Linked DNA regions of Homo sapiens. The protein of the gene in region 1 interacts with the protein of each later gene in a biochemical or structural test. Each region holds a gene or a part of one and is shown in the gene's direction. Other genes may lie near its edges.

The links. The genes of interacting proteins can lie anywhere in the genome.
Region 2: of the proteins of FAM20C (region 1) and STC2, one has a biochemical effect on the other in vitro, tested with the Homo sapiens proteins (one study listed by IntAct).
Region 3: of the proteins of FAM20C (region 1) and AMBN, one has a biochemical effect on the other in vitro, tested with the Homo sapiens proteins (one study listed by IntAct).

The regions. Positions count from the first base shown.
Region 1 is NC_000007.14:187,503-195,586, forward strand, and holds the start of FAM20C (extracellular serine/threonine protein kinase FAM20C precursor), read left to right. Parts: upstream 1-5,068; 5' UTR 5,069-5,697; coding exon 5,698-6,302; intron 6,303-8,051; coding exon 8,052-8,084. UniProt on the Homo sapiens protein: Golgi serine/threonine protein kinase that phosphorylates secretory pathway proteins within Ser-x-Glu/pSer motifs and plays a key role in biomineralization of bones and teeth.
Region 2 is NC_000005.10:173,325,262-173,333,426, reverse strand, and holds the start of STC2 (stanniocalcin-2 precursor), read left to right. Parts: upstream 1-5,012; 5' UTR 5,013-5,233; coding exon 5,234-5,384; intron 5,385-7,416; coding exon 7,417-7,559; intron 7,560-8,165. UniProt on the Homo sapiens protein: Has an anti-hypocalcemic action on calcium and phosphate homeostasis.
Region 3 is NC_000004.12:70,587,724-70,595,408, forward strand, and holds the start of AMBN (ameloblastin precursor), read left to right. Parts: upstream 1-4,532; 5' UTR 4,533-4,635; coding exon 4,636-4,650; intron 4,651-5,603; coding exon 5,604-5,672; intron 5,673-7,685. UniProt on the Homo sapiens protein: Involved in the mineralization and structural organization of enamel.

The DNA.
Region 1 (8,084 bases):
GGGACGACAACCTCTCCTGTCCTAAAGGGCAGGAGGTACTGCGGCTTCTTCCCCTGCCACAGTCCCAGGGACCTGACGGGGACACTCAGAGACTCTGTCTCTGCCTCCTGTGCGGGGTCATGCTCTGCCTGGAAAGCGCCTCCTTCCTTCCTGGCCCATTGGGAAATCGCAGTGTCCTCTGGCCGGTCCCAGCACCCCCGGGTGGGACCCCAGCGACCCTGCACCCCCCCACTGCAGCCGTCTCCCTCCTCCTGGCAGGGCAGCTGCCAAGCCTTGCCCAGTCCAGGTCTCCCCAGGCAGGATCCCTTGGGGGAAACCTGAGGAGGCAGCTGTTCCCCCACTCCCAGAGTGTCCTCAGAGAACCCCTTCCAGACCCCAAGCTCCAGAGCTCGGCCTCAGGTTCCCTTGCTCGGGTCTGGGAACTGGAAGTCGGTCCCGCTCCCCTCCCTGGCCTCTGCCCCATTTTTCTGTCCGCTTCCACGTAGAGCAGACCAGAATATGCCACCCCAAAATATGCCTCTTTGGCATAAGCATTATTTTGAGCTGCTTATTTTGAGAAACTGCAACCACAGGAGAAATTCTGAAAACAAGAGTGGAAGCTGCTGTTCTATGAGAGAAAGTCACATCCGTACAGGCATCTGCGCTCACCAGGGTGCCCCCTCTCTGGGCCAGAAGGCCGCCTGTAAGTCACCGGAGACGCTCATCCATGGAGAAGGCCTGACCCCAGTTTGGGGTAATTTCTTGGGCCCCTCCCCACACACTCTTTCTCTTTGTTTCCGTCGAACATGGTCTTTAAGGCTGAGCTCCAAGCCACGCCTTTGCGACATAGCCTGTCCCGAGTCCGTCCCTTGCAGACCAAGGTATACATGCTATTAAGCTTCTGTTTTTCTCTTGTTATCTGTCTTTTCCACCTTGCAGCACGAAGCTTCCCCCAGGAATCCTCCACGCCCTCACCTGCACCAAGACTTTCAATTAAGAGCAGCAGTGCCCTCCTGGTGTCTGGTGGTGCCAGGGGGCAGGCCTGGTCCTCAGGCCTGGGGTCTTCTGTCCCCCCTTATCCTGGGGAGCCCATCTGTCCCCCTCATTCCTGGGAAGCCCGTCTGCCCCCCTCATTCCTGGGGAGCCCGTCTGCCCCCCTCATTCCTGGGGAGCCTGTCTGCCCCCCCCATTCCTGGGGGACCCATCTGTCCCCCCTCATTCCTGGGGATCCCATCTGTCCCCCTCATTCCTGGGGAGCCCGTCTGCCCCCCTCATTCCTGGGGAGCCCGTCTGCCCCCCTCATTCCTGGGGGGCCCGTCTGTCCCAGGGCTTTGCATACTGAGGCCTCGCAATCCACAAGCTTTCCTAATTCCCAGCTCATCCACATGACAACAGCCCTTCCCCGGGGGCTCTGGCCGACCTCCCTTCGTCCTCACCACACAGCTGCTCTCCCTGCCCCGCCCTTAGCCCTCCTTAGACCCATCCACCCGGCCCCTAGGTGAGCCTCTCCCGACCCAAGACCCAGCGTCGTCCCTCTGTCCCCAGCCTTCCCACGGCCCCCTCACTCAGGACGCAGCCCACAGCCTGGCCCCACCTGCAGACCTTACAGAGGCCACTTGGCCCCTCACACAATGCCCACCTCACAGGCCTTCTCTCCCCGCAGAGGGTCAGACATGCCCCTGCCCCAGCCTTGGCATTTCCACCCCGCAGGCCTCCACGGGGCTGAGCCCTCAGGTACCAGCTTCTGTGCAAAGCCATGCCTGGAGGCCTTCCTGGGCCACGTGGTCTAAGACAGCAATCCCCTCACACCCAGAGCAGGCAGCCCTCCCTGCCCGGGCCGTCTTATTTTCCTATGTCATTCCTGTCACCACCTGGCGCTCACCTTGGCTAACTGGAGCTCCAGCCCCTTTGGACGAAAAGAGCTCCCAGAGCCACTCCCTGGTCTCTGATGGGGCTGTGTGTCCTCTCCAGGTGCCCTCCCCGACAGCCAGCCCCTCCGCCTCTGCACAAGGGAGGGCCCAGGGAGGCTCAGGGCCTGTGTGGCTGTGTGTGTGTCTCTATGTGTCTGTGTGTCTGTGTGTTTCTGTGTATCTATGTGTGTATGTGAATGTGTATCTGTCCATGTATCTGTGTATATCTGTGTCTGTGTGTGTGTGTATGTCTGTGTCTGTGTGTATATCTGCGTCTGTATGTATATATGCGTGTCTGTGTGTATACGTGTCTGTGTACCTGTGTCTTCGTATGTCTATGTGTGTATTGGTGTGTGTCTGTGTGTGTCCATGTGTGATGACATGTGTATCTGTGTCTATGTGTGCATCTATGTATATCTGTGTGTATGTCTTTGTGTATCTATAGATCTGTGTCTATGTGTATATTATCTCTGTGTTCATCTGAGTATTGTATGTCCATGTGTGTCTACATGTGCCTGTGTCTGTATCTGTGTCTGTCTATGTGTCTATGTGTGTATCTGTGTGTCCGTGTGTGTGTGTCCATATATCTGTCTATGCATGTATCATCTGTGTGTCTGTGTATTGTGTATCCATGCATATATCCGTAACTATGGGTATGTCTGTGTGTGTTTGTGTCCACGTGTGTGTATCTGTGTGTGTCTATATATCTGTGTCTATGTGTGTGTCTGTGTCCACGTGTGTGTATCTGTGTGTGTCTATATATCCGTGTCTGTGTGTATCTGTGTGTATCTATGTGTGCATCTGTGTGTGTCTGTTTTCTCTTTGTTTTTATGGTGTCCACGGATGGGCCGACTGAACCACCAAATTCCTCCTCAGAGCCCAGTAAAGGCACCAGGCGGAAGGGTCTGGCGGAGGGTTGGCCGCTGTCTCCTCACTCCTCAGCGGGGTCCTGTCTTCCGACTTTTGTCTCGCGCCGCCGCAGCCTGTGGACTCCTGGGCCCTCCTCTGAGAGCCTGCGCTGTGCCTGGCCCCGGGCGGAACTTTGAACGAGGCTCCTGTCTTAACTCGACTGCTTGTGCTTGGGGGAGATAAACAATAAACAGGAGCAGAAGAAAGTGTCCTCAGACCACGGCGGGTGCTGTTGGGAAAACAGTGGCGGGGCAGGGAGGGGGGCGCTTCTGAAGGACCTGGCGAGGTAGAGGCCACTGTTCTAAGAGGCAACAGACGAGATGAACCAGGACCCTCTGCGAGGGAGGGAGGCGTCCAGGGGTGCACACGGGTCCAGATAGCTGCCGGGCTCCCAAAAACCACTCTGGGGGTGAGGATGGGAGGGGAGAGGAGTTGGGGGCAGGAGGCAAGTGAAAGTAAGTGCCCAGGGAACCTCCATGAGGCCCCCCACACCGGATAATAGTGTTCCATGGGGTCTGCTCAGCCCCATGTCTGCCCCAAGACACTAGCCACAGCTCTGCGTCGAGGTCCTGTAGACCACGGGAGAGATGGGGGGGCCAGGAGCCTATAGAACTCCAAGTCCAAGGGGACCCTTGCTGGGAGAACACAGGCCAAGACCTTCCTTCCTGCCACAGGCTTCTGTCCCTGCTGTCTGCTCCCCCAGGACTCCCCCCACACCCGGGATCTTCCTCCTCACCCTCCTTGGCCTCTCTCAGTGACCCTGTCTACACACAGATGTGCTGTCCATGTGAGTGGAAGGAAGGAAGGATGAGGTCCACTCACAGGGGTGAAGCTGTCTCCTGAGGGGGCAGCCCACCTCCAGGTCACACCGCCCCACCCAACACAGCCTCCAGTCCAGCTCCAGGTGGGCCGCACCCAGCCCTTCACTCACTTCAAATGGCCCAAGACGCATGGATTCCACTGGCCAGCCGGACTGGAACAACTTCTCCCCTTATAAGTATCTAGTGGGTGCCCACGGAATGCCAGGCAATGGGCCAGGCTCAGAGATGAGTGATTCCTCAGGAACAATGGGCTCAACGCCCTTAATTCACATCAGAGGAAACTGAGGCTCAGAGAGGGCGGAGAGGGCCCTGGTAACACAGCCAGCCGGTGAAAGTAAGAGGGGGGGCCCAGGCCCTGCTCCCGGCCCACCCGCCTGGGCTTGCTGGCGAGGCTGCTGGCCCAGGCAGTCTGGGCACTGTGGAAGCAGCCGGCTTGAGGCACAGGGGATGTGGCCTCCTCCCACACACTTACCTCCCTGACTACATCTTAGGCTGACATCCAGATTAACTCATATTCCCTACAGGGAGCTGCACGGCCAGAAGCTGCTGGTTGCAGAAGCCACCAGCTGGTTGTACAAGCACCGCTCCCCTGGTTGTGGGTGACAGATGAGATGCACTCACGTGAACACACATGCATGTGCACACACACATGCACACAGACGCACACACAAACACACACAGGCATACACACGCACACGCACATCCACACACACACATGCGCACACACACGCACACGCCTGCACTCACACACCCCCGTCGGCCCCAAGCAGGAAGGCGCCCCCGGCACACCAGCCCCTCTCAGCGCCCCCAGCGGGCCCGGCGCCTGGAGGGTTAAGGCGGGCGCGTCCCGCGGGTGGGCGGGGGGGGGGGGACGGGACCGGTGCCGGGAGCTCCGCTGCCCTGGCGTCCCCTGGGTCCAGGCCCAGTCGCTCCTTGGGCCTCTCTCGCGGGGCCGCCTCCGCCTCCTCCTTGCCGAGACGGGCGTGGGGCACGGGGTCGCCGCCCGGCGGGGAGCTCATCCGGCGGCGCAGACGCCCCGCGGCTCCGGGGAGGGACTTGGCCTGGGCCCCGGCCCCGCGCTCCTCTGGGGAGGAGCCGAGAGGCTGCAGCTGGCGGCGGCGGCCCCGGGCGGGAGGGGGTCCCAGGAAGCGGCCAGGCCGGAGCCCCCCACTCGGCCGCAGCTGCTGGCCTGGCCAGAACCGAGCGCGCCCTCCCGGTCTCCGCCGCTTCCCTCTGCAAACCGCGGGCAGGAGGAGCCCTCTCCTTAGCGGGCCCGGAGCTCAGAGGCGTCGCGGGGCGCGGCCGAGGGGAGGAGGAAGGAGAGCGGGAGCGCAGCCGGCCCGGGCCCAGCCGTGACTCGTGGGGCGGCGGCTCCGCCAATCTGTGGGCGCTGACGCGGGGGGCGGCTCCGCGGCGCTCGATATCTGCCCGCCCGGGACGCGGGGCGCCGAGAGGCTCGGCCAGGCGGGAGCTGCGCTCGGGGCGGCCGCTGCACCTGCCCGGGACCCCGCCGGCCGCTCCCCGCGCCCACCCCTTCCGCCCTTCGCCCCCCCCTTCCCCCCAGCCCCGGTCTCCCGGGCGCGGCGTGAGAGCAGAGCCCGGCCCGGAGGAGCCGCCCCTTCCCCGCCCGCCCGCCCGGCGCCTGGAGAGGAGCGCGCTGAGGATCGGGACGCCTGCGGCCGCCGCCACCGCCCAGGCCCGTCGCGCCCCGGCCGGGATGGACCCACACGCCCGATGAGCCCCGCGCCGGCGGCTGCGAGCGCCGAGCCTCCCCCTGCTGCGGCCCCAGCCGCCCCCCGCGCGCCCGGCTCCGCGGACCAGGACCCCTGGGCTCCCCGGCTGAGGGCGCGGCCGCTCCGGAGAGGCCGAGCGGGGACGGGCCCGAGATGGCGCGGGGACCCAGCGCTCCGGCGGCGGGCGCCCTGCACGCGGCCCGGGCCCGGGGACAGCCCCGGAGCTGGTAGCCGCCCGGCACCGATGGACCTTGACCCGCGAGGCGGCGCCGCGCTCGTGCCCAGCTGCAGCTAGAGGGGCGCGCGGGCAGAACGCGCTCCAGGCCCGGGCCGGCCCGCGCGGCCATGAAGATGATGCTGGTGCGCCGGTTCCGCGTGCTCATCCTGATGGTGTTCCTGGTGGCCTGCGCGCTGCACATCGCCCTGGACCTGCTGCCCAGGCTGGAGCGACGCGGCGCGCGGCCCTCGGGGGAGCCCGGCTGTTCGTGCGCGCAGCCCGCCGCCGAGGTGGCCGCGCCCGGCTGGGCCCAGGTTCGGGGCCGCCCCGGGGAGCCCCCGGCCGCCTCCTCCGCCGCCGGCGACGCGGGCTGGCCCAACAAGCACACGCTCCGCATCCTGCAGGACTTCAGCTCCGACCCCTCCTCCAACCTCTCGTCCCACTCGCTGGAGAAACTGCCGCCCGCGGCCGAGCCGGCCGAGCGCGCCTTGCGGGGGCGGGATCCCGGCGCCCTAAGACCCCACGACCCCGCGCACCGGCCGCTGCTGCGAGACCCCGGCCCGCGTCGGTCCGAGTCGCCCCCCGGCCCCGGCGGAGACGCCTCCCTCCTGGCCAGGCTGTTCGAGCACCCGCTTTACCGGGTGGCGGTTCCGCCGCTCACGGAGGAGGACGTCCTGTTCAATGTGAACAGCGACACCAGGCTCAGCCCCAAAGCGGCGGAGAACCCGGACTGGTGAGTGGGGGCTGGCAGGTGCCCACCCCCAAGGGAGCCGTGAGCCCAAGGCATGGTGTAGAGAGGTTCAGGGGCCCCAGAGGGCCGCCCCCCATGGAAGAGGCCGGGCAGGGAGTGTGGTGCGGGAGGAGGCAGCCGCCTACCTCAGGGCGCTGCCTTTGTCTCCAGAATAACCTCCTCCTTGGGAGGGGCTGCCGGCTGGTCCGGGAGCTGTGCCCTGTGGCTGCTGGTGAGGAAGCCAGACCCCGCGCCCTTTAGAAGCGAGTCCTGACCAGCCGTGGTCACCAGCTTGGGAAATGGGGTCAGGCAATGAATGAATGAGTTGGTGAGGGAAGGAGCCAGGCTGCCGCTGGGCTTTCAGACACTTGGCGAGGGTGCTCTGGGTGGGCACCTTGGAGAAGGTCTGGATGTGCCTATTGAGTCTTTTAAACCCAGTGGCTGGAGCAGAATTATCAGAGGGGCTTGCTGGCAGCCGTGAGGTGCAACAAGGCGGCCCAGCCAGCAAGGGCGGTGGGTGTGCTGGCTGCAAAGAGATGATGGCTCGATAAAGGGCGAGAAGCCACGGCAGGAACCTCTCTTTAAACTGTCCTGGCTAAGCCCTTTCCCCACCCCCCGGCCCCTCCCTCCGCCACACAGATCAAAACAAGCAGATGCTACACCGAAGCAGTGGAACATTAACCACGACAAGGCCAGAATAAGTAACTACCTGCCGAAGGTTACCCCAGCAGCAGAGGGGGAGACCAGCCTTCCAAAAGATCTGGTTGAAAGTCCCTTCTTCCCTGAAATGTCCAGGCCCAGTGTCTTCTGTCTAAACACACTGGCTGTTTGGAAGCCTCTGAGCCTTGCCTGCTGGTCAGGTTCAAGGAAATGCTTGGAAATTTGAGAACCAGAGCATTGGCCTGGGCTGTGGCTCTCGGCAGGGAGAGACGGCCGCCCAGAGCAGCGAGTGGCCAGGAAGTGTATCCTAGCCCCCCACCCCGCCCCCGTGTCCACCGCAGGACAGAGCTTCGGCAGAAAGCACCTCAGCTTTAGGTGAATTCGAGCTAGGACAAGTTCCGCGTTTCCCTCCAGCCCAGCAGGCAGACGGAGGGTCTGTCCCTCCTCCAGAACGGTCCCTTGACCCCAGAGATGTGAGGACAGGCTGCGTGGGCGGCGGGTCCTCCATGGGAGCCTGGGCTGGAGAGAGTGCTGCCTCCTTCCTCTCTCCCCACCCAAGGCTGCTCTCATTAAAATCAAATTTAGCCTCTTGCATCATTGTGCCCCTGGTTGTTGGAACAAAAGCAGAGAGCTGGGGAAGGTTCCTGACAGACTGGGCGTGTCTGTGAGTTTCATGCAGCCTGTGGTCAATGGTAGGTTCTCCCCTCTACTCCAGGGGAGGGCCACAGCCCCTCGCACCCTCAGCTGAGGTCATGGTTGGGCCATTTCGGTGACCCTGGGACAGACGTGGCGGGGATGGCAGGGCAGCGCTGACGTCCTGGAATTAGTTTTGCTGTAGTTAGAGCTGTCTGTGGTGTCTCCAGAGGGTGAGTAAGAATTACAGGCCTTTCACCGTGTTATTAGTTGGCAGCCGAGCGGCCACAGAAGAAAGCGCAGACGTTGCAGGGCCCTCTTTAAGCAGAGGCGCCTTCAACACATCTGCACTTGCTTGAACCCAAAGTTAAAAACACTGGCGTCGGTGCCCTCTCCCCGTCATCCGACTCACGGGCCTGTTCTTTCCATGCTGATGTTCGTCCTCGCTGCTCCCTGCAGGCCGCATGCGGGTGCTGAAGGTGCAGAATTCCT
Region 2 (8,165 bases), on another chromosome or scaffold:
ATACAACAAGGAAGAAAAAATTATGACCCATGTAAAACAGAGAGGCCTTCTGGAATACCATTCAGGCTTCAGAGAAAGGCGTTAACAAAACTCAGACTACAGTCAGATGCCCAGTGTTTACTACTTTATATTCCTTCCAGTAAATGGGTTTATTGTGTTCCTACTCTCTTGGGGGTTTTTTTAATGCTTTTTTTTCTTTTGTATTTCCAGTCAATCCATGAATGGTTTGACTATTGATCTGTGACAGAGAGGAAATGCCCAATTCACAAAAGCGTTGTGTTCCCACACTTCCAAAGTTGGTTGTTTGGGGAACTCAGAATATATTTTCTTCCAAGAAACAATATTATACATGATAGGTTTACAGGCCAGCACCACAAAATCCTTCTTAACTCATTGTGTTGTTGGGCACTGCACTTTTATGGTATAAATTAGTAGAATATAATTTGGTTATAGTATTAAGAATAAACAAACCCAAATATTGAAGATATAATCTCCTTTATCCTGAATTATATTTAATGAAATAACCAGTTTAATGAAAAAAAGATAAGAGCAAAGATAGAGGCTTTTTTTTTTTTGAGACAGGGTCTTGCTCTGTCACCCAGGCTGGAGTACAGTGGTGCAATCATAGCTCACTGCAGCCTCAACCTCCTGGACTCAAGCCATTCTCCCAGAACCTCAGTCTCCCGAGTAGCTGCGATTACAAGCACATACCACCACGTCTGGCTAATGTTTGTATTTTCTGTAGAGACGGGGTCTTGCCATGTTGCCCAGGTTGGTCTCGAATTCCCGGGCTCAAGCGATCTACCTACCTCAGCCTCCCAAAGTGCTGGGAGATGGAGGCTTTTTAGGGAGAGACCTCTGCTTGCAAGATAATTTGGGAGGCCTGATAGCAGCAGTTTGTTATTTTTTTCTGTCCGGTTTCACCTTGATACCTTTTTTCATTTTCCTTCATACAGGTATGATGCACAGGAGCCAGGATTAGGGTAAATTTGAGACTCACAAAGGAAAACAGCAACGGATAGGGGAGCAAGAGGGAAAATAAGTGTGAAAGAGATCTCTTTGATGGGGGGATTAAGGCATGTTATTGCGAGGAGATTGGCTAAATCTGCATTAATTGATTTGCTAAGAAAAGGAAAGGAAACTGGGGAGAAGGCTGGAGACCCAATATCAGAACTTTCCAGGCAGGCAGAGTCGTGAGGACTGTGTAGCCAGACAGTTCCCTCTCTGACCATAAGGTGGTGCCATCAGCCCAGACAGTCGGCCCCAAGGGGGCGGGGCGTGCAGTGGGTGGAGCTCCCCACGTGTAAGCCATGTTCTCCACTCAGGTTCCGGAACTCAGAAAGCCTGGACCAGGCAGCACGTGTCAACTTGCACATCACTGACTCAGCACCCACGAACTATGCCCATCCGCTAAAGCCCCTTCGGCTCACACTCGAGCAAGAACACGTCTGTCTTGCTGGGCATCGAGACGCACGTGAAGATTCCAACTAATTCCTTCCCACTCCTCTGCTCTTTCTCCACAATGGCAGCTCTGGGCCCCTGAGCATTTCCTAATTCCTAAAGAGAACCTAGTCTAAAGCGCCCTACAGTCTCATCCTTAAATACCGTCAGATCTTCCGTGAGGAGCACAGATTTGTCACAAGGAGCCCAGCCTTCACAACATGCCCTGGCCGACTTCCCCAGTTTGATGTCCCACTTTCACACCTAACTGGGCAACCCCTATTCCTGATACAAATCCCACCGGATCCTCTCCATGCATTTAGCCCTGCTGGTCCTCCCACCTCCCATGCCCACTTTTTTCCTTGCCTCTACTTGTCACTATCCTCCCCCATCCTTCATGGTCTAACCCAAATATCCCCTCCCCCAAAACCTGCCACTCAGTGTTGACCGCATGTAACTAGCAAAGTGGATTTAGACAGGAAAACATGGGCTCCAGGCGTCAACCACAGAAGGCCCTGGATGACACAAGGTAGGTCATGTCTGCCTCTTCCTGGCTGTGTATGCGTTAAATTGAGGAGGAGGGCCCATCCAGACAGGTGCTGCTGAACCTCAGGACAGCAGCTGGTCCATCCAGGAGACCTCCCAGGCCTCAGTTCCCATCTAGGGAGGGCCCTAGGTCTGGAGGGACACCAAAGGCATGAGTGTGGTGTGTGGTGCGGTGTCATGTTAGCTATATAATAGTAATAATGATTATTATTACTGTCCCCTGCCCCACCCTCATCAGCCACAGTCTGCCAAACTTGGCCTCAGTTATAAAGCTAAAGGAATCAGCCAGAGAGAGGGGGAGTCAATCACAACAAAGTCACCAGTCTGAGCCCCCATCCCACTTCTACCCCTGCGGCCTAGACTGGCCATTTCAGCAAACTGCCTAGTGATTCTGCAAGGGAATTTTCACAGCCTTGGCGGGTCGGACTCAGATGGGCATTCTTATCTGGATGCTTTGGACTTGGCTAAGTGGCCCAGAGATAAACCCTTAAGAACTAGTGCCTGTGCTTACGCCACCTCCAATTCTAGCTACTATGTGTTCTTTTGGTTCTAAAGGGGCAGTTGGCTCAGGTGAAAACCAGGAATGTCCCTTGGAAGGCAGGAGCAAACAGCCTCAGGACGAACTTTGAAACTATGTAGGTCCTCTGAGGGCAGCCCCAGGGGCCCCATGGTAGCAAAAGGTAGGCCTAGCCAAAGGCTGGGCAAAGCAGGAGCAGGGAGAGCTCCATCCCCCTGGCCATCGCTCCAGGTATCCTGGGAGGCCTCTGCCCAGCACACTAAGTGTCTGCATCTGGCAAAAGAGGGCTTGCTCCTGCCCCATGGAGCTCTCTCCTATTTCTGCTTCTCAAAAAAAAACAGGTGACCAGATGCCTTCTTAATGTCAATATTGCTCATGTTCTCTCCTACAAAAGAGGCCACATAGAAAGAAAGTCTACCCAGCTGTACCCATAAGCAGGAGTGGGACCAAATGGCTACTTGTTCTCAGGAAATTCAGAGCCTTAAAGAGTTAGTTAGGAGAGGCCAGAATGCCGCTGTGTCGTTTGTTTGCTTTGTTTTTAAGGATCTACAGGAGGTAGTTTTCCATAAACTAGGAAGCTAAGTTAACTATGCAAACACAAGCAGGGTGGGCAATGTGAACTGGCCGTTTTAATGTATTTGTACCCGCACGTCCTTGCACAAAAGATCCAAGGCTGCGCGGAGTAATTGCTATTAGAATAGTGGGCATGGTCCCTACCGCCGCAGGTTCGGACCTTCAAAGTGACAATTTATGGATGCTCCCTGGCGCTCCAGCGCAGGGGAAGCCCACTCTGAAGACGCCCTCCCCACCCCCTCCTCTCCTTCCTTCCGACTCAGGAGAGCTCGACACGCCGGATAGCTGCGGCCAGCCGTGGCCATCCTGGCCCCCCGCCTCCGCCTTCCCCACTCCCGCGTGCAGCCGGGACACGGGAAAGGAAAGCTTTGGAAGTCAAGCGCCGGCCAAAAGATGACCTGCCCGCGTGTCTCCTCGCCCCCTCCCCCAGCCGTGTCACATGGCGGCCCCAACCAGGCGGGCAGTGCGCCCCGCCGCGGAGACCCAGGGCCGCGTCGCCTGGGCAGTGGGTGATGAAACTTCCCAGGCGCATTACCGCAGAGGGCGCGGGCGGGGCGCGGGGCGGGGGTGGGGGATCGAGAGCTGGTACCGGGGCTCACCTGTTCTCCAGGAGGAGGGTGGGGACGGGGGGAGGGGCGAGTGCGCGCCAACGCCGGGTGCGTGCCCTGGGGCGCTTGGGCGCGGCGCTCGTGTCCCCGCCCTCCCCCAGCCCTGCGAGCCCCCCGAGCTGCGCCGTGGGGTGACGGGACCGAGAGCAGTTCCTGTCCCCGGCCCCGGCGCGGGGGAGACGTGAGCGTGCACACGTACACACACAGCAGGGGAAGAGGCGCTCCAAGCGGCGCCCAACTTTCTCCTTCCCTCCACGGGCCGGGTGAGAAAGTAGCCGGGGGCTATCCCGACCCGGCGGTTCTTGGGGAGGGGGCCGAACAAGAAAAGGGAGGAGATGGAGATAACTTCCCCGGATTTAGCTTTTTTGTCTTTGTTTTTGTTCTCACCACTTCCATCGGATGACTGGAGAGTAAAAGGGAACCCGGAGCGGGGTGGCGAGCAGCGCTTTGAGAAAATGCAGGAGTGTGTTTGGAGACGCGTAAAGTTGCCTTTCAAGCTCTGGCCTCCGGGCACGCGATGCTCCGCGGCGGGCTGACTCAGGGCTGCCTTGGGCCTCCCTGCCACCCTCCTGGAAATGATGCAAGTCCTGACTGTCACCTGGATCCCTGCAGCCCAGCCTGGAATGCGTCTGGATTAGGGGAAAGACGAGAAACGACACTCCAGGTGTTGCACGGCCCACCAAAGCGGGAAGATAGGGCAGTTGCTCAGACCAAATACTGTATCTAGTGCTTCTGCTCCTATCTTCAATCGTGGGGTTCTTTTTAATGCAAAGTGTCACAAGGCCAGGAATTCCCATGTGTGCTCAGTTGGCCCACAGCATCATTGTGCCTAGGAAACTGCTTCAATTTATCAAGTCCTCTGGGCTGGGAATCTCACTGAATTCCAAACGGCGGAAAGAGGAAACTTTCCCAACCCGATGTGGGTGTGACGCGAGCCAGGGGCCCCAGGGACACTGTCCCAGAGCACACCGTCCCCCTTTAACAGCAACTGGAGCTTGGATTCGCTCTTATATTGTACAGTCCTTTCGACCATTGCCCTGGAGCACCCGCACACGCGCACGCATCTCCGGCCGCGCTCACACACACTCATACACACGCACGCAAACGCGTGGCCGCCGCCAGGTCGGCAACTTTGTCCGGCGCTCCCAGCGGCGCTCGGCTTCCTCCTGTAGTAGTTGAGCGCAGGCCCCGCCTCCCGGCCGTGTTGTCAAAAGGGCCGGGGTCTCGGATTGGTCCAGCCGCCGGGACAACACCTGCTCGACTCCTTCATTCAAGTGACACCAGAGCTTCCAGGGATATTTGAGGCACCATCCCTGCCATTGCCGGGCACTCGCGGCGCTGCTAACGGCCTGGTCACATGCTCTCCGGAGAGCTACGGGAGGGCGCTGGGTAACCTCTATCCGAGCCGCGGCCGCGAGGAGGAGGGAAAAGGCGAGCAAAAAGGAAGAGTGGGAGGAGGAGGGGAAGCGGCGAAGGAGGAAGAGGAGGAGGAGGAAGAGGGGAGCACAAAGGATCCAGGTCTCCCGACGGGAGGTTAATACCAAGAACCATGTGTGCCGAGCGGCTGGGCCAGTTCATGACCCTGGCTTTGGTGTTGGCCACCTTTGACCCGGCGCGGGGGACCGACGCCACCAACCCACCCGAGGGTCCCCAAGACAGGAGCTCCCAGCAGAAAGGCCGCCTGTCCCTGCAGAATACAGGTAAGTGCATGTGCCCCCGCAGCCGGGAGCTACTGGGAGAGGACACCGTGCACCCACGCGGCGCGCCCCAGGCGTTTCGCCGGGAGCCAGGCGCCCACCCAGGGCCACGCAAACTCTTGGGATGGCACGGGACGTGCAAAGGGAAGCGCGAGGCAAGGCGAGGTCCGCGCCGGGCTCCGAGGGCCCGGAATCTGCACGTGCTAGCAGGGTGATGAAATGGCTGGGGCAGGACTTGTTGCTGTCCTCCCCAGGGTCGAGGGGAAATGAAGCAGCGTCTGACGCTGCCAGCGCCAGCCCCCGCCCCCGAATCCCGGGTCCGGTGCAAAGCGCGCTTCATCCCGGCCGGCACGCGGGAGGCCCAGAGGGTCCCCGGAGCTGGGCTGCGCCCTGCGCCCGGAGAACTTCTCTTCCTGGCCTGCCGGCCTCAGTAAGGGTGCCGCGTCTTCCCCCTCCTCAAAAGATGCCCGACATCCCAGAACTTTGCCGGCGAGACAAATGGCATTGCGAACTTTCCCCCTGGGGGCACTGCTTTCGGAAGGGAGCGTGAGGGCAGCGCAAAGCGTACCTCCGCGGTGCTGCCGCCATCCCCAGCTCCTGGCCAGGTCAGCAAGCCAAGAAATGGTGACACGACCCGAACCGTGCGCCTCCTCTGCTCTACCGGCTCTTGGCTCACCGGCAAGCTGCAAAGCAGAGCCAGGCGTGCAGGGCACGGGGCTGGCCCTTTTCCCAGCTCGGAAAGAGAAAGAAAATCTGCCTACAGCTCCTTCGCTCCACGACCCCTCCCCCGACTTTGGGGGGCCGTGTGAACGCGGCAGCGGCGGCGTGCGTGCGCTCACCGCACGAGCTGGAATGCACGAGTGCCCATTAGGGACGCCCCAAGTGAGTGAATGGCGGCCCTGTGCGGTCCTGCCCCGGCGGCGCGTGGGGTCTTACGGATCCTGTCGCCTCCACATGCTGGGGCCGGCACCCCCACCACCCCGAGACCCTCGCCCACCCTCCCCCTCCTCTGGCGCTTCCTCTGAGAACTGAACCTGATTCTCGGTGGTCGGTGACCCTCAACAATACACGCCCCTCATTCTCTGGCTAGATTTAATCTGATGCGGGTTATCTGCTCCGACCCCGCCCTTCTTCCAAAATATACTTTTCTGATGTAATTTTGTGGTTGATTTAAATCAGAGACTTGGGTAGTGGAAAGGGAGGGAAGAGGCTTTGCACGCTGCAGCCTGACAGTTAACTCCCTCCGTCTGCCCCTTCCGAGAGAGGACTGGGGGCCACATTCGGTGAAGGGCTGCAAGCTTCCTCCCGGGCTGCGGGAATTCTAGGGGATTGGGTGATACCTCACCCGGATCCCTAATTAAAAGGAGCCTGCAACCTCTGATAGTGGCGTTTCTGAAGGCTCGCCCCCAGCTGACTCCACTCCTAAGCCTGCTCGCCAACCGCAGCTTCCCTAGCTGGTATTTTAATGCGAAGGGTTGGGAGGCACTGCCTTAATAGGAATTTTGTTTTGATTTTTAGGTGTTGAATCATAAAGCTGAATTGAAACTGCTTTTTAGATGCTGTCATTTGGGGGTCAGGAAGCAAATGGCTGTGATTTAATAGCAGCAACTTCTACAGATCAAGTAGAGAAGGGTACTTCATTGATGAAGTACAGTCTTCGACTCAAAATTTTATTTTTGTCTGTGGGTTTAAAAAGCGGAAATATATTTTGCTCTCAAACTAAGTATTCCCACAAATACTTTAATAAAATGGAAAGGATGAAAAGGAGGAATGCTCAGACCAGCCTTCTGGTTGTAATTTTTGTAATTTTTCGGCTCTTTTCTACAAATATTTACAAATAGAGATATTTTTCATGAGTAGATTAAAGGACGAAATTTTGTTTCCCAGGCTTTTTAGGTCCTGAAATAGTCATTACTAAGTCTTTTTTCCTCCTTAAATTTTCCTTTAGTTGTTAACTTTTATTTCAAATGACCTCTCTGCATTGCCCAGCATGGGTTAGAGTTTTGTATATATTTGTATGTGATTTTCCTTTTAGCGGAGATCCAGCACTGTTTGGTCAACGCTGGCGATGTGGGGTGTGGCGTGTTTGAATGTTTCGAGAACAACTCTTGTGAGATTCGGGGCTTACATGGGATTTGCATGACTTTTCTGCACAACGCTGGAAAATTTGATGCCCAGGTAAAAATCCATCCAGAGCATGAAGAATGTTTGGGGTGAGCATACATGATTGAAACGTTCATTGGAAAGCCTTGTTAACCAACTTCCTTTGCTGTTCCTTGTGGTGTGTTTTAGTGCTTGCAAGCGACAGTCTAGGTATAAAACATTATGCCAGTGTCTCCCTTCTGCACTCATAAGCTGTGTCTACACAGGCAGGGTGGACTGGAGACCAATGTCATAATAAACGATAAACACCTTGTAAGGGGACACGCTGTGTCTGGCCACCCAGAACTCAGTCTCCAAAGCCCACTGCATGAGAGGCAGGGGCAGGAACCCCCAATTATACATTTCAGAAGTCATTTCACCTACTAGGAAAATGAGACACAAAGTATGTAGAAATCCGTCATGTGGTGTGTGGGCAGCCAACCCGAATAACTCAGGACCTCCAAAAGAGCAGACTTCTATTCCTCCTGAGTAGCAGATCTTTCTCTCCCAAGCTGACCGGTCGAAACCCTGATTGAGTCCTTCAGTTCCACACTTTCCTTTTGCTCTATATGATAAATATAGTCAGGGCCTGACCCACTTCGGTTATCCCAGGGTCCCAAGGGGAACGCGGAGTTGCTGCTC
Region 3 (7,685 bases), on another chromosome or scaffold:
TCAGCCTTAGAAAGAAGAAAGTCCTGCCATTTGTGACAACGTGGATGAACCCAGAAGACATTATGCCAGGTGAAATAAGCCAGTCACAAAAGGACAGACACTGCATGATTCCACTTACATGAGGTATCTAAAATAGCCAGACTCACAGAAGCAAAGAATAGTGGTTGCCAGAGGCTGGGGGGAGGGAGAAATGGAGAATTGTTCTTCAATGAGTATAAAATTTCTGTTATGCAAGATGAATAAGTTCTAGAGATCTGCTGTACAATATGCCCATAGTTAACAATACTATATTGTGCACTTAAAAATCTGTTAAGAGGACAGATTTCTTGTTCAATGTTCTTACTACTTAATAAAAAAGCACACATACAAAAGAACACAAGGAAATTTTTGGAGGTAATGCATATGTTTATTACCTTAGTTGTAATGCTGATATCAAGGGTATATGCGTATGTCTAAACTCATCAAGATGTATACATTAAATATGTGCAATTATTGTATATCAATTATACCTCAATAAAGCTGAGAAAGTATTTTAATATGAAGCAGATTTTTAGCCTTCATATTTCATTTCCACAAGAATGATAATAACTCATGATCACTGAACATTTCTTGGCTACCAGCTAGTGTGCTAAGCACCTTATATTTCGTATTTAAATTAAATTAATGCTGACCTACGGTAGACCACATTTCACAGATAAAAATGTTATATGAGCTTGGGCACAGTGGCTCATGCCTGTAATCCCAGCACATTGGGAGGCCGAGGTGGGTGGATCACCTGAGGTCAGCAGTTCGTGACCAGCCAGGCCAACATGGTGAAACCTCGTCTCTACTAAAAATACAAAAAATTAGCTGGGCATGGTGGTGGATGCCTGTAATCTCAGCTACTCGACAGCCTGAGACAGAAGACTCACTTGAACCCAGGAGGTGAAGGTTGCAGTGAGCCAAGACTCTGTCTCTCTCTCTCTCTCTCTCTCTCTCTCTCTCTATATATATATATATAATGTGTATATATATAAAACATATGTATATATACACACATATATACATATAGAAAACATACTATATATACACATATATAAAATATATACACATACATATATACATATATAACATATATGTATATATGTTATGTATGTATGTATATGTTATATATGTATATATGTTATATATGTATGTATATATACACATATATAAAATATGTGTATATATAATATATAAAATATACTATATATACATGTATATATAAAATATATATACATTTATACATATATACATATATAACATATATACATATATAAAATGTATATATACATATATATGCATATATACATACATATATACATATATATAAAATATATGTGTATGTGTATATATATATAAAATATATGTATTTATATAAAGTGAAAACATGGAGGCCAGGTGCAGTGGCTCATGCCTGTAATCCCAACACTTTGGGAGGCCAAGGTGGGCAGATCGCTTGAGGCTAGGAGTTACAGACCAGCCTGCCCAACATGGTGAAACCCTGTCTCTACTAAAAATACAAAAATTATCTGGGTATGGCGGCGCGTGCCCTTAGTCCCAGCTACTCAGGAGGCTGAGGCATGAGAATTGCAGGAACCTGGGAAGCGGAGGTTGCAGTGAGCCAAGATCGTGCCACTGCATTCCAGCCTGGATGACAGAGTGAGACTCCGTCTCAAAAAACTTTAAAAAAAAAAACTACATGAAGATTATATAGTGGCTCATTCAATGTCATATGACCAGTGAGTATTACAGAGGGGATTTAAACAGCTGTGCTCTCAACCACTTTACTAACATATTCTGCCAGATCTTGTTGCTCTAAATTTTTCATTGTAACTTTTTCTATGGCCTATGTCTCTTCATGTGTCTCACATCTTTTGTCACTTTGAGATTTTTTTTTATTTTGCTGTACTCCAGACACAAGTATTTTCTTATAACTGACTCTCTGATTCTTCTTCATACAGGTATGGTCTTGGCCAACATAACATGGTTTCCATCAGCTATGGTAATTTCCTTATATCTATAATCACTGTCAGAAACTCATTCATACATTCATACTAATTTCCAGATTTCATTGTAATAGAAAATTTTTTGTAGGATATATTAGTATTACATTTACCAACTTTCCCAGTAACATACATCCCATAAAATCTGACAAAAAACTGTTTATTAGCTGAAAAAATGAAACCAACTCCAATTGATTACAATCATTATTACAATATGAATACACACTGTCTCATGCAAAGTGGGAAACAAGATTGGAAAGAGGAACTGAAATGTTCAATTGACTGTCTAGTTACAGAGGGTGAACTTTATGACAGCCTTAGAGATCCTTACATAGTTTTTGAGTGGGGCAGTGAAATGCCAAAACCAGTATTTTAGGAAGATAAGTCTAGTGTTGGTGTGCAGGATATTGGAGGAGAAATAAACTACCAGATAAACATCTGGAAGTCAGTAAGCCAGAATGGAGTGTGACATTTAAAAAAGGAAGAAGCAACAGTGTGTATGATATATTGGATATTTGGCTCAAAAGCAAAGCAGAACATAAGAATCCTACCAAAACATCATTATTAGTGTGTCATGATCACGCTTATAAACTTTACAAGACACACACATACACACTATTTGCCAGTTTTTTAGCCAACTAGGAAGCTCGTTCCTATGGATTCAGCATCAACTTCCACAGAGAAAATGTCCTCCATCAGGTCCCTCCTCTACCTCCTTGGAGCTTATGAACCTAGCTGCCAGCACTCCTCCTCCTCCAGCACACACACACACACACACACACACACACACACACACACAGTTCTTGTGGTCTCATATTTCATGTAGTTTCTCCTACCAAAAGGACAATCAACTCATTCATTCAGCACCCAATAAATGGCAGCTGCTGCATCTTCACCATCTCACCAATCTTTAAGACAAGCTCAGGCTGGGCGTGGTGGCTCACGCCTGTAATCCCAGCACTTTGGGATGCCAACACAGGAGGATCACCTGAGGTCGGTAGTTTCAGACCAACCTGGCCAACATGGGGAAACCCTGTCTCTACTAAAAATACAAAAAAAGTTAGCCGGGCATGGTGGCGCAGGCCTGTAATCGTAGCTGCTCAGGAGGCTGAGGCAGTAGAGTCGCCTGAACCCAGGAGGCGGAGGTTGTAGTGAGCTGAGATCACACCACTGCACTCCAGCCTGGGCAACACAGCGAGACTCCGTCTCAAAAAAAAAAAAGACTAGCTTGTGGTCATTAATTATTATCCTTACATAACAGAAGAAGGAACTGGGGCTCAAAAGAGATTAAGGGACTGCATCAAGCACCAGAGACAGCATGAAAAATAATACTTTTCATTTCAATAACATTTTGCTGTTTGCAAAACACATTCACATTCTTCATTTCTTTGCATCCTAAAGATAATTCTGGTATCAGTGGAACACAGAGGTTTTCAGGAGCAGCTTCTAAGATAACATTATTTGAAGCTGTTAGGCCTACATTTGGGTATGGATACAGCTTTCTCTCAAAATACCAGCTTCCTCAATGTTCCCTGTAATTGACAAGATCCCTACTTCCCTAAAGAGTGTACTGACTCATCCCTTCTTCAGAACTAATCTTAAATGCTTATCCCTACCATATCTGAAATCACAACTTTGGAAAGACAAGGATGGGCAGAGAAGTAACAAAAGCAGCTAATATTCAATCCACATCCAAGATATTATCTGTTCACGGAGAAAAACCAATCTGTGTTGACGTTAACCTTTTAAGTGATCGAAATATGTCTTATTAACCTGGCTTGATACTAATGCCTGGGAATGTGTCTATCTGAAGAGTGAACTGACACTTGTGCCCATTGATTTGGTTCATAGAGAATGTTCTGATTTACGTCCCCGTCCCCACAGATTTTTTTTAAAATGCACCAAACGTTTACCTGAAGTAAACCTGATTCTTGCAAAGGGTCCAACTGTAGTTTCTTACAAAAGCTTGGCTATCTCTAATCAATTATCTCCAGATATGAAAATATCTAGGAAATTCAAGGAAGAAATCACACACATTAATTTTCCATCTAACATTTTAGTGTTTTCTTTTAAACTCTGTGTGTGCTGGGGGGAAGGACAGTAGTCTCTTTTACTACAACAAACAGGAGGGTGAAAACCTGAAGAATGCTAGCATTGGGTCACTAGCTTTATCTGCAGATAAAACCTGCACAAAACAGGTTTTGTTTTGCACCTATTTTACATATATTTTCCCCAGCTCACCAAAATAATTGTCTTCAGAGCCTATGTCCATTATTCCTTTACTGCCTTCCCTGCTATCAAGTTCTCTGAATAAGTACAGGGGCTGCAGTACAATTAAAAATAATGAGACCCTACTGGGCCAATGTCCCTGCACGCAATAAAAGGGTGTGGACTAATTGCAGGAGCAGAGATTCCCGCCCCAACTCCCCCCCGCCACCCCTCGCCATTTTGCTTCACTTTGATTGGTGGATTGGCACTTTAAATAAAGGTTTCTAATCTTCCCTGAATGAGAAGTACAGAGCAAGTCCCACGCACAGTCCTGAAAAAAATTTTAATCTTCTTTTCTTAGAACTATCTTGGTTGGCATCATCAGGCCCTGAGAGCACAGTGCATGTCAGCATCTAAGGTAAAATGGGATTTTATGATTTCCATGTGTTTCCTGTAAATTCTTTTTTTCCTATCTCCTGACAGCTTTTATAAAGAGGATTTATCTTCATTTGTCACCAGTAGCTGAATTATTGCTTGTTGTAATCCATTAGCATGTCCCAGAGATGACATGCCTAACACCCATTCAACTAAGAAAAAAAAAAAGACTTTTATTTATAGATTGTGTTTTTTTTAATGTTTTTGATTATAGTGCCTAATTCTTTTTAATATTAGAAGATGAGTAAATTTCTAGGCTATTCAGATCTCTATTCATGTAAGAATAAAGAGCTTTTTGAATTTATAGAATAAATTTTAAAAGATAATTCATTTTAGGAAGAGGAAAGCTAAATTTGAGACATATTTTCCACTAACATCAAAGAAAATTAAGATAGCCAATTTACTCTCATTTGAAAAGAAAAATTTTGTCATGGTTACGTAGATTACCTAAACATGCAATGATGTACCCTCTATTCCTGCAAATAAAGGTTTGTTATAAAATGACTTAGTTGCATTACATTTCACATGCATTTCAAAATGTGTCCCAAAGGGTAAGCAAAGTATAAACTTCTGTGAATAATACCTTATAGACCAATATTTTACTTAGTGGGAAGGATTTTTAAACTCATAATTCACTTTATGAAATGAAATATATCACAAAGAATATCGATGGAGGTTGTTCCTACATACTTATTTAGGCTGTAGATCCATTTAAAACGTGCTTAGATATTTTTTAATTGCTTGTTAATTTATTTCAGAAACTACTACATACAAATCGGTTGTTTAGTAACATTTAGTTTTTGTTTTTGTTCTTCTAACCTTTATCCCGGTGGTTTTTGTAAGAGCAGAGACTCAGGCTCATTTTCAAAAATTGTCTTTTAACCATTCTGAATAAAAATTCATCTGATTTAATTCTCCAACTTAATTATGTTTTAGATTCCACTTTTCAAAATGAAGGACCTGATACTGATCCTATGCCTCCTGGAAATGAGTTTTGCAGTGCCGGTAAGTCAGTCTTTAGAGTGTGTCCCAGAAAAGGTTATTGATTGTCGAACTCCAAACAACACTGAAGGGATATGGACTGAGAGTCCACGCATAGACTCACTTGATTTAATCCAGTGGTTTAGTCCTATTGAGTCAAAAGCCATAGTTGCTCAGATGTCAGTCTTGCAATCCAAAAGCGGTAAGTGATAGCCGGGTGCGGTGGCTCACGCCTGTAATCCCAGCACTTTGGGAGGTTGAGGCAGGAGGATGACCTGAGGTGAGGAGCTTGAGACCAGCCTAGCCAACATGGCTAAACCCTGTCTCTACTAAAAATACAAAAATTAGCCAGGCGTGGTGGTGGGCACCTGTAATCCCAGCTACTTGGGAGGCTGAGGCAGGAGAATTGCTTGAACCTGGGAGGCGGAGGTTGCAGTAAGCCAAGATTGTGCCACTACACTCCAGCCTGGGTGACGGAGTGAGACTCCATTTAAAAAAAAAAAAAAAAAGCAGTAAGTGAAGTATGATATTTCTACTAAAAAGTTATTTAAAATAGTCCCAAGACAATTTCTAGATCTTATTCCACTCATTCAAAGTTAAAAGCTTAGATAGTCTCCACAATGCATGGCGAAATTTTATTATCAACTTATTGCTATCATTATAAAGTTGAAATGGAAAGAGGAAATTTCTTTGAAAAAAATACATTTTCTTCATTTCAAAAAGAACTATCTCTAAATTTCTATGGTTACAAAACTCAGCTAGATAATTCCATTTAAAGCTAGTAATTAACTAGCAAATTTACCTTGTAAACATGAAATTGTGTGACTGAGAGCTGAAGTTTCATAAATCAAAACATATCATAGTGATGGGGCTAATTGTGTATTACAGTCCCACACCTGATCCATTCTAGTATATATTGAAATGATCTCATACAAACACAATCTTTTGAACACTGAACTACTCCAGCCAACAGCATGCAATTCTGTTATCACAAAAACTTTATTTGGCTGCTATATGCATTTAGCAAATATGTTGAGCAGCTGCCATGCATCCAGTAAATAAGACATGGAAAAATGAAAGTAAATAAGACATGATCTCTTGTCTCCAGTAGCTCACAGTTGGCCTCAAATGAACTTTAGAGTATTTTAATTCCTTGAAAGAAAAGGTTAGCTACTTGGTCTTCTTAAAGTGTTTTAGAGAAAGAGAATGGAAATGGAGAAAGAGGTTGAAAACTGATTATAATGATGAAAACCTTAATTCCACAAATAAAAATAGTCTCTGTTCCATCACGCAAGATGAATTTTAAATGAAAGAAAAATTGAGGGTGCCACCCTAGCTTACCTTTATATGATACTGACGTTGGGATGAGCCTCAGTCATTCACTATCAGTCTAACACATTGGCATTCTTTGAACCTATAATGATCCACACCTGAATCAATTGGGTCCACTCTGAGGAACAGAACAATTGCTTATTATTGCCAACTCATTGCCTGTCAAATCAGATGTTCTTCTCCTATTAATTCTGCATGGGAAATGTATCCCCTATCTGTATACATTCGTGTAAATATTCTTTAAGTCATGACTTAGAGCAGATGGAAAGCAAAGTACACTTTGTTCTGTGGCTCAATCCAGGATGTGTTATTTATGCACTGGCAAATAGTGGGGAAGAAGGTCCTGCTCTCACGATTCCCCCAAATTCTCAACAAGCTAACCACCACATACACACATACATGCACAATCACTCTTCCTGTCTACACAGCTAACCTCTTTCCTACCCAGAGTATTTGCTACACATTTGTAATGCCTTTCCCTCTATTCTTTTTTTTTTTTTTTTTTTTACAGTCTGGCTCTGTTGCCCGGGCTGGAGTGCAATGCTGAGATCTCAGCTCACTGCCACCTCCTCCTTCTGGGTTCAAGCGATTCTCCTGCCTCAGCCTCCCAAGTAGCTGGGATTACAGGCACGTGTCACCACGCCCAGCTAATTTTTGTATTTTTGTAGAGACGCGGTTTCGCCATGTTGGCCAGGCTGATCTCAA